Regions from separate parts of the Homo sapiens genome. Here region 1 is linked to region 2. The links come from fine-mapping of genetic effects on gene expression. Tissue or cell type: whole blood. Region 2 holds a variant in brackets; the other region holds the start of a gene. All regions are shown on one strand. Distances are between the middles of the regions.

Region 1 (8,183 bases), 38 kb before region 2:
CCTCCAGGACTGGCTGGAGAAGCTGGCCACCAGCTTGTCTGGAAACAGATCCAGGATCAACCTCTTTGTCTCCACCCCCACATCCTCCTCTCCCCCTGCCCCTGCCACAGCCCCCAAAGGGTCTCCCTGCTCTCATTCCCCTCCACCCCCTACTGTGAAGCAGAACGATGTTTGTCCAACCTGGAAACCAGCCCTTGCATCTGCCCTACACCCCAGCAGCTTCAGATGGACCCAAGAAGCCTCCCAGCCCTGGACACTCACAGCCCTGGCCTCAGCGGCGCTGCCTTCATCACTCACCACACCCGTTGCCAGGGACTGTTTACTTCTCTGTCCCACTGGACTGGGAGGTGTTCAAGAGCAGGGTCAAGGTGTTATAGGTCTCTAATCCCCAAACCCCGCTCCCCAAGCCAGGTTCCAGGAGAGGCTGTTGCACTAGAGACAGCCAGCCACCTCCAAGCTCTTTCTCCCCCGAGGGACGAGGCCCCTTCATTGGGCAGTCCGTCACCTGCTCTCCACGATGGTGGGGACCAGGACAGAACAAAGAGACCCCAGCAACTGGGGATGGTCAGCCCCAGGCGGGCAGCCAGAGGGCCTCTCATCCGGTGCTACGACCCCCAAAGCCAGCCTTGGGGAGAAAGAACAGCGGAGCCCATTCCAGGGTCACTGAAAAATGATCCCAAGAGCCATAAACCTTGTAACCACACTCTTGGCCTCTGACCCCAACTCCTTTTCCACCCAGTGCTCCTGCGGTGGAGAGGGAGGGGTGCCTGGCATGGGTTGGCCTGGGCACCCACCCCTGTGAGGCACTCATTGCTTGAGGCAGTGGTTGGGTGTCACCCTGCCATCCTCAAACCCCGACTGGACCCAACTAGCCATGTGACCTTGAGCACGCAGGCCTAGACTGGCCAATGAATGGGAAATAAGGCTACTGCTGAGGATGAGGAAACCCATGGAAACCTCTCCCGTATGTGGGGGCCCCATCAATATTCTGTCGACCTGGATTCTATCCCCACCTGCCACTAACAGGCTAGGTGACCTTGGGCAATTCTCAAACTCTCCGTGCCTGCATTTCCACATCTGCAAAATGGGGGTAACATGGTAGTGACCTCATGGCATTATCAACACATTAAAAGAATTTAAACCTGTAAAACTGGCAGAATAGTTCCTGGTGCAGAATAAGTGTCTGGCAAATGTCAGGGGAGACCAGCCCTGACTCTGCTGCCAGCACTGTGACTGCTGTCACCGCTGCACCCCAGCACCTCAGCACTCCATACACGTTCTCAGAACAGATTCTCATTTATAACCCAACTGTGTCACCACCCCTCAGAAGCCATGTCACCTGAAACAGGTGACATCGCCTCCCTGAACTCTGACCGTTAGCAACACGTTGCTGTTGTTCAGGTTAAGAGAGGTCTTACGTGAGAGACATCTGGCTCCAAGCACAGTGGAGTAAGAGGCACTGCCAGAAACTTCTGCATCCTGGAGGACTGTAACCTTCAGCCCAGTGACCTTGGGTATGTCCCATAAATGCTCTGAGGCTCAGTTCCCTCATTGTGACCTTAGAAGCCTTCTGGAAAATGATCCCAAGAGCCATAACCCTTGTACCCACACTCAGTCCCGGCGGGAAGTCCGGGATGGAAGGTCTGGCTGGACCCGAGAAGAGCATCCCTGCTGGCTGCCCCGCTTCGGACGCTTGCAGAGAGAGCAGACTCATCACCTTTCCGAGCTGCCTAGGCTACTCCTGGTCGACCTAATTAGTTGGTGAGGATTTCATACCTGCCTGAAACCCTCCTCCCTGTATAAACCAACTGTGCCAAATGGTTCTGGAATGGAACAGACTGAGGACAAGAGAGGAGGCTCAGGCCAAGTGAGGGGAATCACCTGATAGAGGTGCTGCCTCAGGACACGGAGTTCCTGGCACAGGCGCCACTGCTCCTCAGCCGAGCAGCTGGGGGCCCAGGCAGGAGGGGGTGTGGGGGCCTCGGGGCCAGGCCCCGCTAACTGGACGAGTCTGATGCCTAGACAGGGAGGGGTGGAGTGGAAGCTGAGGCCTCAGGCAGCCCTGCCCCTCCTGCAAAGCCTAGCCTGGACCATCAGTGGCCCAGAGTGGCACCACCGTGGCCTGGGGGGCACAGGTGTGGCCGGCTGATCCCCCTTTCTTGAACTGAAACCCCCGCTGCCAGCCTCTTCCCGGCTCCTGCCTCCCTCCCCAGACGACACACACAATAAAGCTGGGAGGACACCTTCACAGGGGTCAGGGCCCCCACCAGGACACCCCCACCCCACAACACCCACCCCGTCAGCAATCACCAACTTGCTGGAACGAAGACAGAGCCCTGGCTCAGAGCCCCTTCACCAGGGACTAAATGAGAAAATAAATAGAAAAGCACTTCCGGGAATTATTCGTGGCTGTGGTGGTTCGTAAGCGGCAGCAAGATGCTGAGAGTAGATGCTGTGTCTATGGTCTTAGATGTGAATTTTACAGTACAATTGCCTAGACATGCAAAGATCTATTTACATTTTTAAGTGTTAACTCTTGGAAATATTATTCTTAGCAAACAGAAACTACTTAATTGGATGCTACATTCAAAAAGAGGAGATTCTTTAAATTCAGCAGAAAACACTTTGGGGAAAGGTTGATGAATGGTTTTTCCCAGTGACACCAATACTGAGCGAGCCCGGGCACTTATTTGGAGATTTCACAAAAGGAACAAAGAGGAAGGAGACCCTGTGTGAGCGCGCACACCCTCCTGCACCTAGCGCCAGCCTGGCAGGGGCAGGCAGAAAGGGCGAGAACAATTCAGCCCTGGGGAGGGGCCATCTGACCAAGGAGAACGCTCCCCCGCCTCGGTGGGGCAAGTCGGGCTGAACTGCCACACCCGGGAAGGTACAGGGGCAGCCTCGCCCGCCCCTAGGCTCACCCCCGATCCAGAGCCCCTGGGGCCACGGGGCAAGGGAGGAGCAGGGCAGCTGCGGGGCCAGGGCCCTCTCGGATGAGGCTCCCAGGAAAAACGCGAAGGAATCTTGCCCCACCGCGTTCCACTGTCAGGACGAGAATATCATCTAAGGCAGGGCTCCCCTCCCCCGCCCAGCATCCCGCGATCCAGAATCCCGCGCGGGTACACTGTCCTCGCCGCGCTCCCTCCGGCCTCCCGAGCCCGCCCCCACTTCGCGTACCCAGCGCACGCGGCGCGTTTCTTTTGTTGCGCCCGCCGTGCGAGATTTGGGGGTGCACACCCGGCAACGTGGAGGGGCGTGGGGGGGCTTACCTTATCCGGGGGCGGGAACTGCAGCTGATTGACATCGAGGGGCGTCATCAGGGGAATGGTGTCGAAGCCATCCTCCAGCAGCGGCTGCTTGGTGCCCTTCTCTGCGAAATTGTTCCCCAACTTCACCATCGTTCCGGGAGCTCCGAGGCTGCAGCCTGCGGCGGGAGGGCCGGGGGGAGTCACCACAAGCAAGACCCGGGGCGGGGCGGGGGGGAAGTGGGCACCCACACCCACCGGCGTCCCGGCGTCCGCGAGCTCCCCGGCCCCGCTTCGTCTCGGGGAGGGCTCGTGGGGACGCGGTGGTCACGGCCCGATGCGGGGGTCGGGTGGTGCTGTGTATTTCTAGACCCTCATCTCGCAGGACCCAAGCGCCGGGCGCAAGGGCGCACCGCGGCCAGGGAAGGGGGCGCCGCCCCTGCCCAGCACCTCCAGACCCGGTCCCCGGTCCTGGGGCCGCCGCACCCGGGCGACCCGCTGTTCACAGCCCCGTCCCGCGTACTCCGGGAGATGGGCATCCCCCGGGCACTGCTCCTGGGCGGGCAAGGTCTGGCCTCGGCAAGCCCAGGCGCGGCCGGCCGCACTCACCCACGCCCGGCTCCGGCAGGTCAGCTGAGCGCTCCGAGCTCCGCGTCTCCTGCTCCTGCTCGCAGCAATGGCGGAGGCGGCGCCGCGCGCGGACCCGGGAAGGGGAGCGAACGATTGGGCTCCACGGCCGCTCCCTCCTCCTCGCGCCGCCGCCTCCCTTCCTGCCTCTCCCGGGGGCTGGGTGCGCGCGGGTGGGTGCGCGCGTGTGGCCGCGCCTCCACCTTGACGCAGCGCCCGCCCGGCCGCACAAAGGAGTGCGGGGCTGGGCGGGAGCCTCCCCTGGGACCACGCGCCCGCCCTGAGCCGGGGGAGGGAACAGGGGAGCGGGAGAGGACGCGCCCCCAGGGGGTCTCGGAGCGGCGGAGGGCGCCCGGAGCGGGAGGGCTGCGGGCTGCGCCACCCCGGGCGGCGGCCTGGGCGCGAGGCGCTTAGAAAGGAGAAAGGGGAGGCGGGGACCGTAGGGACAGAGCGACCCCCAGGGGTGCGGGGAGGTGCAGAGAGGGTCCCCGCCCGCAGCGCGCCGCGCTCACCTGGGGGTCCTGAGGACGTTCAAGGGTTTGGGGGGATGGGTCCAGGAGGCGCTGGGTGGTGGCGGAGACCAGAGCAGGGTGCTCCTTAGTGCTGGGTTGGGGAGGGGGCGACCAAAAGAGGGCGCGTCCGCGTATAAAGGGGGCGCGGCCCGTAAAGGAGGCGCGGCCCGTAAAGGAGGAGGAGGTTTTCGGTGGTGCGGGAGGCGGAGTAGCGCTCTCCCAGGGCTGGGGTGTGGGCGCCCAGGGTGAGGCTGCCCCAGGCAGCGGGAGGGAAGTCGTTCTAGGCAAAGAGCGCTCAGTGCGCCGCTTGGAGGGAGGCGGAAAGGTTCCTCCGCTCTGGTTGGCAGAGAAGGTGGAGGTCCCACTGCAGCCGCCGCCCGAGCATCCTGGGCACAGAGGAGGGGCCGCTGGGACGATGCCCGGACGCGGAGAGAAGGGGGGTGGTTCTAGCCCGACCTGCGCCCCCAAACCCCGAGCTCAGCCGCTGTCGCGGCTTCCCAGAGAGGGTCCTGTTTGCAGACCTCCAACCCGTCCTGCCTGCAGGACTCACGGATGAAAGACTATGGGGTGTGGGGGCGAGGCCGAAATGGGAGTGGAGCCCGCGCGGGAGGAGGCCGGCTGCGGGGATCGGTGCCTCCTGGGCACCTGGGCCAGGAGCTGGGCCCTGTCAGGCGCTGGACGAGGAGGAGGCATCACCCAAATTCGATACTTTTTCACACCCTTTCCGGGGACTTCCCCGCGGCACTACGGAGGGTCCGGGGCGTTTTCCATCAGCCGTCTGAGAATCCTGGGAATAAGCCCAGAGCACAGGAGCAGCCACCGCCTTGAGCCCCAGGCACAGCCTGGGAACTTGCCGCGGGTGCCCTGATTTCAAAATCCCCAGGAGGGCTAGCCGTCTTTGACAGGTGACCTAGTGGGTATCTCGTAACTCGCCCCAACTCTCCAGCCAGGGTCTAAGTGTGCCTTTGACCACAGGCCAGCCTGGTCTGAACCCAGGCTCCTGGCAGAGGCACCCCGCCCCCAACCCAGGGAAAGCGGGTGTCAGACTCTGGCCCCTGCCACGGGCCTCGGGGACCCACAGAACCCACCTTTTTGGCACTTTGATGCCTCCCTGAAGCAGGTGAAGAAGAGAAGATTTCTCTTGCTCCACTTCAGAAATCTGCCCAGGCATCTGCCATGAGAGTGACCCACTGGTCAGGAGAAACCCTTTGGGCTTAAGCAAGGAAATGGCTTTCCCGCACCCCCCCCCGCCCCGCCCCCCGTCTCAGGCTCAAGCATTTAACAGAACCCAACACACACGCGCGCGCGCAAACACACACACACACACACACACACACACACACACACTTGGTCAGAATTCCACACCAGGAGGAACAAAGTGGAGGCCCTGCCCCTCCCTTAGAGACTCTGTCAACTGAGGAGGACAGAAAGGCAAGAAGGACCTAGGTTGTCCCAGAGATGGACGGTGAACAATCATGTTTCTCTGCTAGCTGGCCTTTTGTGCTGTCTTGGGTCTTCACTGGTGCTGGTCATTGGGACTGTTTCATCCTGTGGTTTTCTTCCTCTGCTGATTGTATCTGGGCCCTGTGAAGGGCATGGACAATGCAAAATGCATGAGACACAGCGCCACCCGCAGGGAGCTACGGACAAGGGCAAGTCTTTGCTGGGAGCAGTGGCCCTGTGGGAGAGTGGCCTCTGCCTCTTGCCAGGAGGGAGGACATCCAGAGACTGTGGGTAAAGACTGTGGATAAAGCTTCCTACAGGTGGGCCTGAGAGAGGTGCGTGCAGAGGGGAAGGCATTCCAGGTAGGAGAACAGAATGTGTTAAGACAGTATATGAGCTTCCTGCCACTGTTGGAACAAATTTGGCTTAAAACAATAGAAACATGTTCTCTCCTGGCTTTGGAGGCCAGAAGTCTAAAGTCTAGGTCCCAGCAGGGCCTCACTCCCTCTACAAGCCACAGAGAAGAACCTGTTCTTTCCCCCTCCAGCTTCCAGTGGCTCCAGACATTCTTTGACTGTGGCTGCATCACTCCAATCTCTGCCTTCATGTCACTCCAGTCATATTGCCTCCTCCTCTTCTCTGTGTCTCTTATAAGGACACTCATCATAGGATTTAGGGCCTGCTGGGATAATCCAGGATAAGGTCTCCCTCTCAAAATCCTTAACTTAATCCTATCTTTGCCATATAAGATAATGTTCACTCTTTTACTATGTAAGGTAAATCAGGTTCCCGGGGTTAGCATGTGGACATATCTTTTAAGGGTCGCCATTCAGCTCACTACAGGCATTAAGCTTGCAAGGGTGTGGTGATTTGGAGAACCCAAGTCATTCACAGAGGGTGGCAGAAATTAGGTTGAAGAAGCCACAGCCACCAAAATGGGGATGGCTGAGGCTGCAATGGTGGTTGCAGGTCAAACAGATGTCAGGTATTTTCACAACATACAAAAAGGGAAAATCAATGGGATGCGATCTCCCCCTGGACCAGTTTCATCCCAGCACCAACAATTTAAAATCCAAGTGCCACAGAAGATTGTTGACACATACTCAGTTTTTCTAAATGACTCTTTTTTTTTTTTTTTTTTTGGGACGGAGTCTTGCTCCGTCGCCAGGCTGGAGTGCAGTGCCGTGATCTCAGCTTACTGCAACCTCCGCCTCCCTGGTGCAAGTGATTCTCCTGCCTCAGCTTCCTGAGTAGCTGGGATTACAGGCACGTGCCACCACTCCCAGCTAATTTTTGTATTTTTAGTAGAGACGGAGTTTCACCATATTGGTAAGGATGGTCCTGATCTCCTGACCTCGTGATCCACCTGCTTCAGCCTCCCAAAGTGTTGGAATTACAGGAGTGAGCCACTGCACCTGGCCCTAAATGACTCTTTTAGGAATACTTCCAGGGTTGCTGATCTCAGGCACAGACCCATCACTGCCTGTACGATTGTAACTCCTACCCTGCTCCCTCTCCTCAGGGCAGCCAGGCGCTGCTCTCTAATGACCCTGGTACTTCCAGGTCCAAGCGTTTTAGCAACTTCCCTTGTCCCACTGGTTGAAGTCCAGACTGTCACAGCAAGAGACAATGTGACACAGTGGCTAAGCCGTGGCCCGATTTTGAATCCTGTCCCTCTCTTCCTAGCAGTGTGACTTCAGGCAAGCTGCTTAACCTTTCTATGCTTCAGTTTCCCCATCTATAAATGGAGATAATGAAACCTCCATCAGAGCAGTGTTGTGAGAATCAAATGAGCTATTCTTATTTTTTTAAGTGCCTGTTTTAGGTATTACTATTGCTTTGACCTCTAATTCTGTACTCCTGTGGTCTCTATTCTTAGCAGCCGGTGCTGGAGCCAGGGCGAGGTGATAGACACTTTTCCTGGTTATGTGACAAGTGTTCAGAGTGACTAAGGTGACTCTTCCCCTAGAGGCCTCATGAGCCTCTTTGCAGGTCACAGAAGTCAAATGATGAGTCCCCGGCCACAGGCTTCCCTGCAGAGCTGGGATGGGTTGCAGGATCTAGTCAGGCCTCCCACAGCCAGCCAGATCTCCAGGATGGATGAGGTCCTGCTGGGAGGGTGGCCACCCAGTGCTGTCAGCCTATGGAGGTTCAGTGGCAGGTGATCAGCAGAGGTTCTGCTCTGTTTTTCTGCAGCCTGGCCACGTCGATCCAGCGATGCTTCATCCAAATGTCTTGTTTTTAGATTGAGATGTAATTCACATGCCACAGATATCACCAGTTTAAAGTATACGCTTAACTGGTTTTAGTATATTTACAAGGTTGTACAATCATCACCACTAATTTCAGAACATTT
Region 2 (8,149 bases):
TGCTACTGGGGCAGGAATCTTTGGTGTGATTCTTTTGATCCCAACATAAATGGGCAAGCTAAGCTGACCAAAAGAGGGAGTACACCAGACAAAACAAACTCAAATTTGTGTTATACTATCTCAAAATTGAGTTGTCTCATTTCTCGGTTGGGGGCAGCACCAGTGTTAAAACTAACAAATGGGCCGAGCCCGGTGGCTCACGCTTGCAATCCCAGAACTTTGGGAGGCCAAAGTGGGCAGATCACAAGGTCAGAAGTTCAAGACCAGCCTGGCCAACACAGTGAAACCCCCTGTCTACTAAAAATACAAAAATTAGCTGGGTGTGGTGGCGGGCACCTGTAATCCCAGCTACTTGGGAGGCTGAGGCAGGAGAATCACTTGAACCTGGGAGGTGGAGGTTGCAGTGAGCCAAGATCGTGCCACTGCACTCCAGCCTGGGCGACAGTGGGAGACTCTGTCTCAAAAAAAAAAAAAAAAGAAAAAAGAAAAGTTAAAATGGGAGTTAATATATGTAATTAAAACTACTAGTTACAAAATAAACAATTTTATATACAGAAAATAAAAGAAAATTGAAAAGACAGAGTAATTTGTTTTCTTTTACATGAGAAAGAATTTTGTGTGGTCAAAATGATAAGGGAGAAAATAAACTTTTTTCCTAAGGTGGAATGCCAATAGGAAAAAGGAAGTATAGGCCAAAATTGAAGGTTACATGAACTGTAGAAGGTTTGTGGGAGATACGGCCGGGCATGGTGACCCAAGATAGAAGCACAAAAAGGTAGAAATAAATGAGGAGGCCGGGCGCGGTGGCTTATGCTCGTAATCCCAGCACTTTGGGAGGCCAAGGCAGGTGGATCACTTGCGGTCAGGAGTTTGAGACCAGCCTGACCAGTATGGTGAAACCCCCTCTCTAGTAAACATACAAAAAATTAGCTGGGTGTGGTGGTGCGCACCTGTAATCCCAGCTACTGGGGGAGGCTGAGGCAGGAGAATCCCTTGAACCTGGGAGGCAGAGGTTGCAGTGAGCTGAGATCGTGCCACTGCACTCCAGCCTAGGCGACAAAGCAAGACTCTGTTTCAAAAAAAAAAACAAAGATTTGTGGAAGATTAATCTCATGAAAGGAATTTTGTGTGTGATCAAGTTGGCTAAAATTAGAAGGGAATTATTTAGTTTTTCCAAAAACTGAGGAAACTGTGCATTAATATGAAAAGCACATTGATGCAGGGTCAGAGTATGGGCCTTAATGTTGGAATGACAGGGTTTTCTTGAAGCATCCATCTATTCTTTAATATAAAATTATATGAGTTTATAAAAGGTTTATGGAAATCTTATGTGGCCAAAGATGATTGAGATTGGATGGATTTGTTGATAATTAGGTTTTATTAAATTACCTTTAGCATTAATAATATGCTGATACAAAGGTAGAATTTGGTTTTATCTTTTGAACATGAGTTTCATATAATATTAATAAGATAATAAAAGACTCATGTTTACCTTTTGAGTAAACTGCAAAAAAAAAAAAGAGAAAAAAAGACTCCGTTCATCTCATTCTTCATGCTGTCTTTATTAGGCCTTTTGATTGGAAAACCGGGTCTCTTCTCTATCAAAGAGTAAAGAGGGTGCTTTTTGAAATCTTTAAATTATCACTTTGGCAAAATAAATGACTATTGTTTTACACTGACCTGTGATCCTATTTTAATTAAGTGTGCTAAATCTTCCTTTTTAAGAAGGAACTCCTGTGGCCCAAGAGAAACATATTAAGCCACCGTGGTATGTTAAAGTCATACAGGAAGCTTTGTCAAATAAGAAATGGTGTTTAAATTTGTTTGAGTTATATTTGTATAGATACGTTATGAATGTGTGTTCTCAAGTTATGAGATTCCTAACATTCTGATACGTCTATGTTGTCACACATAATTATAGTTATTATGTTAAATTATTGTATGCCACAGAAATAATCAAATTTCCTTGTTAATTACATCTTTAACTATAGCTACCCGAAGTCTTTTGCCATTCATAGACAATTATTGCTCTATTTTGATTCTTCTCAAAAAGTGATTTACAACTGGCTGCAGTTCAAATTTGCTTTTTCTTCAAAGAGATTCATGGAAAAGGACCCTGGCCCTGTACTCTTTTTTTTTTTTGAGACGGAGTCTTGCTCTTTCGCCCAGGCTGGAGTGCAGTGGCCTGATCTCAGCTCACTGCAAGCTCCGCCTCCTGGGTTCACGCCATTCTCCTGCCACAGCCTCCCGAGTAGCTGGAACTACAGGCGCCCGCCACCACGCCCGGCTAATTTTTTCTATTTTTAGTAGAGACGGGGTTTCACCGTGTTAGCTAGGATGGTCTCGATCTCCTGACCTCGTGATCCGCCCGCCTCGGCCTCCCAAAGTGCTGGGATTACAAGTGTGAGCCACCGCGCCCGGCCGGCCCTGTACTCTTGAATACAGGTTTTTGATAACTTCAAAGATCGTATCATTGGACCAAGTAAAAACATTCAGAACTCTAATAAACTAATGCATTCATGAAGATTGCTAACCCAACATCAAGCAAGACAAGAATTAATTACATGGGACTGAACTGATAGAGGACTGAAATGACTTTTATGATTTTTTGCCCAAAACATTGCTGATTCTTTTTATATTTTGATTTCCACAGTCAAGAAAACTTTTCTCTTTTGAACTATTTGTAGCTTATAGAAACTGGATAAAATATACCTTTGTAAACAAAATGGAAACATTTGCCTTTATCTCTACCTGATTTCCCCAAAACTTGGAAAATCTTCATGAGTATTCGTATTTTATGGCAATCAAGTTATTTGCATTAGTTCAGTAAGAATCTGTTTTCTGTCACAGGATACAATTTAAGACAATTTTTTTTTCAAATCAAGATTCTGACTGGAATGACGTATTTTCAGATATGATAACACTGCTTTGAGGAATTGAAATGGACTTTATAGAGCTGATAAAAAGCCTCTTGGCAAAACTGGCCTGCTATCTTGTCTACATAGTTCCCTTTCAAGGTTTCTAATCTTGCAGTAAATAAAGAATGTGTCTTTCTGATATGCCCAGGAACCAAAAGATATTTTGGGGACCTTGGGAAGAGAGAAATTCACCCAATTTGTACAAGTATTACAGGTGCAGTCTAGCGGTGAATCCTTGGTTTGATGTCCTAGCCTTGAGACTTTTAAAAGTCTAATCTGAAATTCCTTCTGAACGTTCCAGCAAAGTCA[A/C]CTTAAAAGGGTCTATATGGCCAATCACTATTCTTGCTGCACTTTATGCAAATAATCAGGCCAAGTATAATACTAAACTTTGGTAAAAATAGGGACTGGAGAAAAAAGTTAGGCTCCTGAAGAAAGCTATAGAACACCTGTTATTAGATTCCAGCCCCCGACCATTGTTTTTGAGTTCTTTTATTATTTTCCTACAATTTGAACTGAATCCCCAATGGAATAGGCTTTGTTACTATGTATCTCTCAGGGTTTTGCTTCTTCCAAGAAAACCAGAAAATGATATTCTGAAGAGTGGAGATGATTCAACAAGCAACAACAGCATTTATATAAATCAGTGGCTTGAATGAGGACTACCCAGGAATGAGACTTCCCAGCACTGAGGGATGAAGGACATCTATCACTGCCACCTGCACAGAGACTGATCATCAATGCTGCCATGGGAATAATTTTGATCAACAGGGGGGATATGAGAAAAGAAAAATAGCTCAGAGCAGGCTGAGAACTGAGAGATCTGCAGACCCACAGAGACATGGGTATGGAATTCCAGTCATTCCCTGGCCCCCTGTAGCCGGTGCCTACACCTGGGGACAATTGTTTAAAGTTATTTTGTTCCTACCGGTTGGGCGTGGTGGCTCACGCCTGTAATCCCAGTGAGAGGTGAAGCCAGCTGGGCTTCTGGGTTGGGTGGGGACTTGGAGAACTTTTCTGTCTAACTAAAGGATTGTAAACACACCAATCAGCGCTCTGTGTCTAGCTAAAGGTTTGTAAACGCACCAATCAGCGCTCAGTAAAAACGCACCAATCAGCACTCTGTAAAAACGCACCAATCAGCACTCTGTGTCTAGCTAAAGGTTTGTAAACGCACCAATCAGCACTCTGTAAAAACGACCAATCAGCACTCTGTAAAATGGACTAATCAGCAGGATGTGGTCAGGGCCAAATAAGGGAATAAACGCTGGCCACCTGAGCCAGCAGCTGCAAACCGTTGGGGTCCCCTTGCAGGATGTGGAAGCTTTGATCTTTGGCTCTTCACAATAAATCTTGCTGCTGCTCACTCTTTGGGTCCCCACTAGCTTTATTGTAACACTCACTGTGAAGGTCTGTGGCTTCACTCCTGAAGTCAGCGAGACCACAAACCCATCGGGAGGAACAAACAACTCTGGACGCGCCACCTTTAAGAGTTGTAACACTCACTGCTAAGGTCTGCAGCTTCACTCCTGAAGTTAGCGAGACCACGAACCCACTGGAAGAAGAAACTCGGGACACATCTGAACATCTGAAGGAGCAAACTCTGGACACACCATCTTTAAGAACTGTAACACTCACCGCGAGGGTCCGTGGCTTCATTCTTGAAGTCAGCGAGACGAAGAACGCACCAGAAGTAACCAATTCCAGACACACCAGCACTTTGGGAGGCCAAGACCAGCAGATCACAAGGTCAGGAGTTCAAAACCAGCCTGACCAACATGGTGAAACCCCATCTCTACTAAAAATACAAAAATTAGCCGGGCGTGGTGGCGCATGCCTGTAATCCCAGCTACTTAGGAGGCTGAGGCAGGAGAATCGCTTGAACTCAGGAGGTGGAGGTTGTGGCGAGCTGAGATTACACCATTGCACTCCAGCCTGGGCCACAGAACAAGACTCTGTCTCAAAAAACAAAAAAAGAAAAGAAAAAAAAAGTTATTTTGTTCCTGCCTAGCTGCCTCACTCATTATCTTCATGTTCCTGAAATGTGTGATAAAAAGAACAACCTATACCCAATCAAAACTTGTTATTTTACTACACGTTCTTGATAAACAACTCAGGAACTGCCTCTTCTTTTCCTTTAAAAATTTACTTTTAACTGCTGCTAATTGGAGTGTATATTCAGAGCAATTTGAATCTATGCTCCTGGGATGCAATCCTCAAGCTTGGCCCAAATAAACTTTGTACTTAAATGAATGTTGCCTCAGCTTCTTCCTTTTAAGTCAACAGAGGCAGCTGTGTTCCTCACTAGGGGTCTGTTTTCTAGGTAGATAGGGGAGCGTCAGAGAATAGCCTCCTCCAGTGCTTTGAGAGAGACAGAAGGTTGACAGGCAGGAGGAGAGGGATCAGAGAGACCTTGAGGCTGCTTCTTCAGGTCTGCATGGGAAGTGTCATATTGTGGGGAATTGTTTTCTGTGCTCCAACAATAGTATATGACATGGCCCCATATCTGTCCCAGAGAGAGGCCCTTGTCATACTTGGAAATTTTTCTCTTTATGACTCTTGTCATGAGTATCTCAAGTCCTTTTATTCTGCACAATTTTGTACACATTTGTGGTCCCACTGGATATACAATTTTGCATCCCTTCTCACTTAGCATAAGCATTCTTCTAAGTTAGCAAAAACCCTTTTATTTTATCAATGCCTATGGTTAGACATTTAAGCTAGTTTTAATTTGTTTCTGCCACTGTTTTTTTTTTTTTTTTTCAGATGTTGTAACAGCATCTTTGTATAGAAATTGTGACCACATCTCTGATTATTTCCTTGGGAGAGAGTTTTAGAAGTGGAATCATGGAATCAAATGGAATGGATCTTTTGGCCGCCCCTGGGAAACACTGTCCAATTGCTTCCCGAAAAGAGGCCACAGCAATGTAGGAAAGTGACTGTTCAAGAAACAGTTTCCAGCATTCACAATTACCATTTACAAAAACTTTCACTAATGAAGGCCAAGAAATGGCATCTTACATCAGTTAGTATTTATTTGATCACCAGGGGGTGAAAACATTTGCAGGCATGTTAACTAGTAATATTTTCTTCTGTGGGTTGCCTGTTAATTCTCTTTGCTTCTGACCTTTTATTTATTTTATTATTTCAATAGTTTTTGGGAGTACAGGTGGATTTTGGTTACATCACTGAGTTCTTTAGTGGCGAATTCTGAGATTTTAGTGCACCCATCACCCCAGCAGTGTACACTGTACCCAATATGTTGTCTTTTATCCCTCATCCACCTCCCAACCTCCCCCGATCCCTGCCCCAGCTTTTGACTTCTTAAAAGTACAACAAAAGGCCTGGCGTGATGACTCACGCCTGTAATCCCAGCACTTCGGGAGGCTGAGGCAGGCGGATCACCTGAGGTCGGGAGTTCGAGACCAACCTGGCCAACATGGTGAAACCCCATCTCTACTAAAAATACAAAAATAGCCGGGCATGGTAGTGCATGCCTGTAATCCCAGCTGCTTGGGAGGCTGAGGCACGAGAATTGCTTGAACCCAGGAGGCAGAGGTTGCAGTGAGACGAGATTGCGCCACTGCACTCCAGCCTGGGCAACAGAGCGAATCTCTGTCTCAAAGAAAAGAACAGAGATGCAGAGGCCAGGTGCGACGGCTCATGCCTGTAATGCAGCACTTTCGGAGGCCGAGGCAGGTAGATAGCTTGAGCCCAGGAGTTCGAGACCAGTTTGGACAAAATGGCAAAACCCATCTCTACCAAAATACAAAAATTAGCCAGTCTAATAACCTGGTCTCAAAATAAATAAATAGATTAAATTTTTCAAAAGAAAAAAAGAAAGATGCAGAGACAGACCCAGAGGAAGGAAGGCCATGTGACAACGGAGGCAGAGACTGGAGCGATGCAGCTACAAGCCAAGGTGGGCCAGGACCACCAGAAGTGGGAAGAGAAGAGGAAGGGTCCTGCCTTAAAGTCATCAGAGAGAGGACGGCCCTGCCAACACCTTGACTTTGGACTTCTGGCCTCCAGCACTGGGAGAGAATACATGTCTGCTGCTGAAGGCCACCCAGCTTGGGGTCATTTGTTCTGGAAGCCCCAGGACACTGACACAGGGCTTATGGCTGTCAGGGCAGGCAGGACGGTGTTGGCCAGGTGGCTGAGATGCAGCAGAGCTGGGTACATGTGGGCATCAGGGAGACTGGACTCAACCCCAGCTCTGCCACCCGGAGCTGACTGGCTTTGGATCAGCTATGTAGCCTCTCTGTGCCTCAGTTTCCCTTTCTGTAAGTTGAGGATACTAATAAGTGCCCCGTGAGGCTGCTATAAGAGTTGAAGGAGATGATGCAGCAAACTAACACAGGAACAGAAAAACAAACACCGCATGTTCTCACTCATAAGTGGGAGGTGAACAACGAGAACATGTGGACACAGGGAGGGGAACATCACACACCGGGGCCTGTTGGGGGTGGGGGTTTAGGGGAAGGAGAGCATTAGGAGAAATACCTAATGTAGAAGATGAGTTGATGGGTGCGGCAAACCACCATGGCACATGTATACCTATGTAACAAACCTGCACGTTCTGCACATGTACCCCAGTATAATAAAAAAGTATAATAAAAAAGAAGAAGAAAAAAAAATGGGAGGAGATGATGAATGCCTGCAACACCGGCCTCACACACAGTAGATGCCCAGATATTGTCATTCCTTTTCTTCTCCATTGCCTGGGCCCCAGCCTCATAACAGCCTGGGTTCAAGGCCAACTCTGCCCACCTCAGCTATATGACTCAGCAAATCACAAACCTCTCAAAGCCTCAGTTTCCTCATTTGTAAAAGGGCGCTATTAAGAGATCAAATGAGACATTGCATTCAAAGTCCTTCACCTGTTCCCCAGCTCATAGGAAGATCTCATCTGAAAGTGGTTAAGCAGTCTATGGCCATACCACACTGAACGCACCGGATCTCATTTAAAAGTGGTTAAGCAAGCGGCCAGGCGCGGCGGCTCACACCTGCTTTGGGAGGCCAAGGCAGGCGGATCACGAGATCAGGAGTTAGAGACCAGCCTGATCAACACGGTGAAATCCCGTCTCTACTAAAATTAGCTGGGCTTGGTGGCACGCACCTGTAACCCCAGCTGCTCAGGAGACTGGGGCAGGAGAATTGCTTGAACCCCGGAGGCTGAGGTTGCAGTGAGCTGAGATCGTGCCACTTCACTCCAGCCTGGGCGACAAAGG

Evidence for each region. PIP is the estimated chance that this variant, and not a neighbour inherited with it, causes the effect.
Region 1: it holds the start of NSG1, and the variant in region 2 is fine-mapped to the expression of NSG1 in whole blood (INTERVAL, PIP above 0.99).

What each region holds. Positions count from the first base shown.
Region 1 is chr4:4,382,845-4,391,027 of GRCh38, reverse strand. It overlaps NSG1 (neuronal vesicle trafficking associated 1), which reads right to left and starts at 3,926. Exons shown (of 5, transcript NM_014392.5): 1 at 3,855-3,926; 2 at 3,270-3,424. The coding sequence starts at 3,398. LOC112268462 (a long non-coding RNA gene) reads right to left here. Exons shown (of 3, transcript XR_007058004.1): 3 at 6,419-6,506.
Region 2 is chr4:4,344,876-4,353,024 of GRCh38, reverse strand. No RefSeq gene overlaps it. Among named protein-coding and RNA genes, the nearest start is that of NSG1, 38 kb to the left of the region's middle. The variant A/C (reference allele first, on the strand shown) is at 3,228.